2 separate regions of the Homo sapiens genome follow, and region 2 is linked to region 1. Evidence: fine-mapped expression QTL. A gene starts in region 1. The other region holds a variant in brackets. All regions are shown on one strand. Distances are from middle to middle. Region 1 holds the start of CDH13 (cadherin 13). Region 2 overlaps CDH13 (cadherin 13).

Evidence for each region. PIP is the estimated chance that this variant, and not a neighbour inherited with it, causes the effect.
Region 2: its variant is fine-mapped to the expression of CDH13 in testis (GTEx, PIP 0.98).

What each region holds. Positions count from the first base shown.
Region 1 is chr16:82,625,635-82,628,539 of GRCh38, forward strand. CDH13 (cadherin 13) reads left to right here and starts at 1,335. Exons shown (of 14, transcript NM_001257.5): 1 at 1,335-1,503. The coding sequence starts at 1,459.
Region 2 is chr16:83,057,267-83,060,171 of GRCh38, forward strand. All of the region lies in intron 3 of CDH13 (cadherin 13), which reads left to right. Among named protein-coding and RNA genes, the nearest start is that of CDH13-AS1, 340 kb to the right of the region's middle. The variant G/A (reference allele first, on the strand shown) is at 1,162.

The DNA of each region.
Region 1 (2,905 bases):
TTGAGTAATTTACAAGTAAGTGGCAGATCCGGGGGCTGTGCCTAGACAATGTGGCTCCAGACTCCTTGCCCCTCCCTGCCTTCTGCTGCATCTTGATTGAGTCTAGCCATCTATTTCTTTAACACACACTAATTGCTGTCTCCATGTTCCAGGCCCTGTGCCAGATGCTAGAAATACATCCCCATCCACTGGATCTTGGCATGGTCCATTGCTCAGTGTCCTGCTATGTTACGTGTTACATAATGCATTTATTCCGGTATTTAGCCCATGGAAAATAATGCTGAAAGACATTGTATGCATGTTTCTACAACAAAACTATGTAACTTATGTTTCTTTTATTGCTTTGGCTATCAGGAAGCTCTTATCCAAATCAGAGCAAATACATTAGAATTTGGGCTTGTCATTTCAGTTTGCTGAACTTTTCCTTCTGGCCCAGATTTTCTATTTTGGTTCATAAATTCTATTGCACAAATGTCCTTTATTGTAAAACACCTTAAATTCTTTCTAAGGGAAGGCTGCATGGAAATGATACAGTAAGGTCTTCCCTGCATTTTCTTAGATTCCTATTAGGGAAGGCAGACCTAGATGTCCCTCTTACCCTCAGTCCCAAAGCCCCCCATTTATAAAATCCCTTAAGCAGTGACTACTGCTGTTCTGAGTACCTGGAGGTAGTTCAGAGCTTCTGAAAGGTAACATCCATATACAAAAAGAAGTTCCTTCCGATCCAGATCCCAGCTTTGGTGCCAGATGCACATTTGAGGAGTAGGTGGCTAGTCAGACTCTCACCTGAGCAGTTAATAAAATCTATTGCCCCTTAATGGAATTTTTTCTGCAAGCTCGAATTGATCTGTCATCTTTGTGATTTGTGAGATGGCAGGGAAGCACCAAACACCATCATGACTTGGGCCACAGTGGGGGGAAAAAAGGAAAAAAGAAAAAAAAAATCCACTGCCAAGCCTTGCCAGGCGTAGAAAGGGCTGGAACTGCTGGGGCCATTTTATCTGATTTATTGGAAATAGAGTGGATCTTATTAACATTTTAATAAAGAGAATCTTTTTGCACTAGGCTGGAAGTGGCCGCCAGTCCCCCGTGCAATTCCATTCTCTGGAAAAGTGGAATCAGCTGGCATTGCCCAGCGTGATTTGTGAGGCTGAGCCCCAACAGTCCAAAGAAGCAAATGGGATGCCACCTCCGCGGGGCTCGCTCCTCGCGAGGTGCTCACCCCGTATCTGCCATGCAAAACGAGGGAGCGTTAGGAAGGAATCCGTCTTGTAAAGCCATTGGTCCTGGTCATCAGCCTCTACCCAATGCTTTCGTGATGCTGCTGCTGATCTATTTGGGAAGTTGGCTGGCTGGCGAGGCAGAGCCTCTCCTCAAAGCCTGGCTCCCACGGAAAATATGCTCAGTGCAGCCGCGTGCATGAATGAAAACGCCGCCGGGCGCTTCTAGTCGGACAAAATGCAGCCGAGAACTCCGCTCGTTCTGTGCGTTCTCCTGTCCCAGGTAGGGAAGAGGGGCTGCCGGGCGCGCTCTGCGCCCCGTTTCTGCATTCGGATCGCCCGGCACGGGCAGGGTGAGGGGGCTTTCGGGGGGTCGGGGCCTCCGGTCGCGGCGGCGAAGACAGATCGGGGCTCGGTAGGGAGGTCATTCCGAGCCCAGAGATCCTAGGCACCCCCCACACACAGGCTCCCACTCTGGCGTGCGTGTGTGTGTGTGTGTGTGTGTGTGTGTGTGTGTGTGTGTGTGTACGTTCGTTAACGGGAGGAGGAGAGAGCTCCCAGTCCTTTTTTGCTAGCAGGGGCGACATTCTCGCCCACATCAAGTGGGGTAACTTTGGTTCCCTCCTCCGGAGGCTCGGTGCATTGGAGAAAGACTCAGTTAGAGGCGACTCCAACGAGCCGCGGTTTTCCCCAGCCCAACGCCCAGCGGCCGAAGCGCTGCTCGGGTCCGGATTGCGGGATGCGGGGCTGGAGAGGCCGAGCAGGCACCACCGACTTCCCAGGGCGCCCGGGCCCCCTGGTACAGCCCGGCTGCCCGCTGGAAGGCGCCTCGGGGCAGCAGAGAGCCTCAGCCCGGCTGCTGCTGTCGCTCAAAGGCGCCGGCGCCGGCCGCACCCGCATCGGGGTCCTTTTGCTCCCAGACCCCGGGCCCGAAAGGGCCGGAGCGTGTCCCCCGCCAGGGCGCAGGCCCCAGCCCCCCGCACCCCTATTGTCCAGCCAGCTGGAGCTCCGGCCAGATCCCGGGCTGCCGCCTCTGCTGCCTTCCCTGAGCGGGAGCGGAGCGCAGAGAAAAGTTCAAGCCTTGCCCACCCGGGCTGCAGCTGCTTGTTAACCCTCAGAGCGCCACGGCGCGAGGGAAGGGCACGCCAACCAGGAGAGGGGGCGAGGGAGATGCGGTCCGCCTGCAGTCACCTCTGCACCTCAGAGATTTCGGGAAGTTTGAGTGCAGGAAAGCAGCGCTCCGAGGCCAGGCCTGGGGTGCTGGCCGCTGCGGGGGGCACGCCCTGCGCTGCTCAGGGGCCTGTGGTTTCGGAGAGCACCCCGATCCAGTCCCCCATCGCCTCTCTGGCAGGCGTTGGGACTTGGAGTGAGCTGGCAGCCTGCAAGTGGGTGGATAAGAGCCAGGGCAGGGCAGGGCCGGGCAGAGTAAGGAGGGAAAGAGACAGGGAGTGCCTCAGGGTGCTAGGAATGAGTGTTGAGTTCCTGGCCGGGGTAGAGGCTCAGGTGAGAGTTTGCGGGTGAAAGGCAGGGGAAGGGAGTTGGGTTCCCAGGTAGGGACTGTCTGGGATGGGGAGACTGGTGCAGACTTCTAAGGGAGACCACTGTTAGAGCAATGTTGGGTTTAGACTTTGGAAATGGGCTAACATCTCAGAAATGCAGTGATGGGTGATAGTACCAGGGGAGAT
Region 2 (2,905 bases), 430 kb after region 1:
CAGGTATGTCTTTATTAGCAACCTGAGAACAGACTAATACTTGTGGTTACCTTTGAAAAGGTGATGACTGGAAGGGGCCTGAGGGAGGTTTCTGAGATCATGACAGAGTTGTATGTCTTCATCTTTATGGTGGTGACATAGGTGTGTTCACTCAAAAAAAATTCACCAAACTGTACACTTACACTTTTGCAGTTTAATATATGAATGATACATGTTATGCTTTAATTAGAAAGTTAAAAGTAAGTTTTTTTCAAAAGTAGTAATTGGATGACTCCCGCTTTTATTGAGTTAGCAAGTATCTTTTACTGCCACTTTCTATTGTTAAAAAAAAAAAAAGGCTCACCACTGAGGCTGTAAGGCTAAATCCTTAGCATGACACACAAAACCATCTATAAACCAGTTTCTAGCCTTTCTTCCTGGCCATTCCCTTTGACCTGAGCTGTCTTGAATATTCTTAAGACTTGACAATACTAATTTTAAACCGTCTAAGATAAGATCACCTCCCACTCCAGAAAAGGGGTGAGGGTAGATGTTAAGACCAGAGTGTGCTTCCAGCACACTTGTATTTTTTATGGTACTAAGAAAGAAAAATGCTGACGCTTAAACCTGCACACAGTAATTCCTTAACATCAATGGTAAGGTTCCTCCCTAATTTTGAAGGCATTAAAATGGGGTCGGGGAAATGTCTTACAAATGATATTTTTTAAAAAAATAAAATAAAACAAAGATAATCATGTCTTGGATTATCATGACTCACAGCAACTTTACTTTCAAAAGTAAGAATATTTACTTCTAAAACTATGAAATCTTCACTATATTCTTAAAAATATAAATCGTTAAATGTCATTCTTTAGCTCTAAATACAAAGTTAGTTTGTTGAACTTCATGAGTTACGTCTTTTATCGGGCTTGGGGTGTGACCTTAGCCCCTCTCCTTTGTGAGGGGAGATGGCAGAACTCTCAGAAGCTTTTTCTATTCTCATCTTTGTTGGTTACTGGGGAAAAACTGGATTTCGCTGCACTCATCAAATAAAGAGGCCCAGGTAGCAGCGCCTCCACGTTTTGTTCAAGTGGGGTTTTCTGCGTGTGCCGCTGGCCAATTCTTCAAGAAAAGTGTTTGTTCTTCTCTGGCGGTTTGGTGTTCCTATGTTTCAACATGGGG[G/A]TACCAAATAATTCATTTCCCCTTTTCCCAACAGATGCATTCTTGTGACCTCACTGATGACAGGGGCGTCGTTTATTCTAACAAATGCTCTTGTCCAAATTCCAACCATGTTGCCAAGAGATGGCATAGCTGGTGAGGGCTGGACTTTAGGGGCCAATCTCCACTCCTGAGCTCCCCTGACCACACAGGAAGAAAACATTAATGATGTTCCCATACTGATGTTGTGGTGTAAGTGTCTCCTGTGTAAATAGAACTAAATATTTAGGAAAGAAAACAGAAGAGTCTTATGTAGTGCATTACAAACTAGAAAGCTTTTGAAGTCAGCATCTGGGATGGTCTTAAAAACAAACGTGCAGTCTGAGAGAAAGAATTACTGCTGACACACGCTGACCTCACAGAAACTATCTGGTGATGAGATTATCTCTCTTCCAGGACTCTAACAAGGCTTTGCAAGGATATTTTCTTGCTTTGCTTTGCTTTTTTTAATCTTCTTAACTGGTGGAACCTCTTGTTATGTGCAAATCTAATCCATTCTCATTCAAAGATGGATGTCCCGGTTTTACTGTATCTGCCTTAGTTGGAGATTCCCGGGAAGAAAAGCCCAGGACAAGTGGTCAGGTGCAGGAACTTGATCTGAGAGGTGGTCCCAGGAAGCAGAAGTGAGTTCATGGGGACATTGAGAAGAGGAAGGAGGCCAATCAAAAAAGAGCATTTCTGAGGTTGCTTCTGTACACAGGGGCTTCATTTCTTCAATTCTCCCAGATCCTCTGGGAACCCTATGAAATGCTTTTCAGAATTCTCAGAGTCATCCACCTGAAAAATAGAGGGACTGGAGCCTTTTTTCCTAGTCTCCCTACTGTCCATGGATTGAGAGTTGCCTGGGAGCAGGGAGAGCGGGTGTTAACTGCCTTCTGTTTAGAACAAGTTCCTGTATGTGTCAGAGATCTGGGGCAGGATGATTTGCAGTCATGTAAGCTTAGGTTGAACTCTGGGAGAGCCAGGTGAGTGTGTGCTCAAAAAGAACTGTCCAGTGCAGCTGCTGCTGAAATCAGAGGTGACTGCAAGGATGTAACACTGGCGCTCGGGTGTCTGCCATGGCCTAGGTTTCTTATGAGAGATTGAACTCTTCGGAGATTCCATCATTCAGAGCAGGCACAAGACGGTTTGGCCACCAATCTGGGTAGAGCCAGGCTGTTGCATGACAAGTCAGTCAGGAGAAAACTGAGGCTAGCAGGCTGACTTTCTGGTTCCATGACACACATCACATCTGCAATAGAGCTTAAAGACAGGGTGCTTATCCCTCAAACCTCCCTGTATCACTAACTTTCTTAATCCAGACTTTTGCCTTTGTTTTTTTTTTTGTTTGTTTTTTTTTTTTTTTTTTTTAGAAGGAGTCTCGCTCTGTCACCCAGGCTGGAGTGCAGTGGCAGGATCTTGGCTCACTGCAAACTCCACCTCCTGGTTCTCGCCATTCTCCTGCCTCAGCCTCCCGAGTAGCTGGGACTACAGGTGCCCGCCAGCACACCCAGCTAATATTTTTGTATTTAGAGTAGAGACGGGGTTTCACCGTGTTAGCCAGGGTGGTCTTGATCTCCTGACCTTGTGATCCGCAAGCCTCGGCCTCCCAAATTGCTGGGATTACAAACGTGAGCCACCGCACCCGGCCTACTTTTACGTCTCATAACCCAAAAGCTCTATGGCTTCAAAAATTCCCAACTCCTCAAAAAGCTGATTTTCTGTTTTA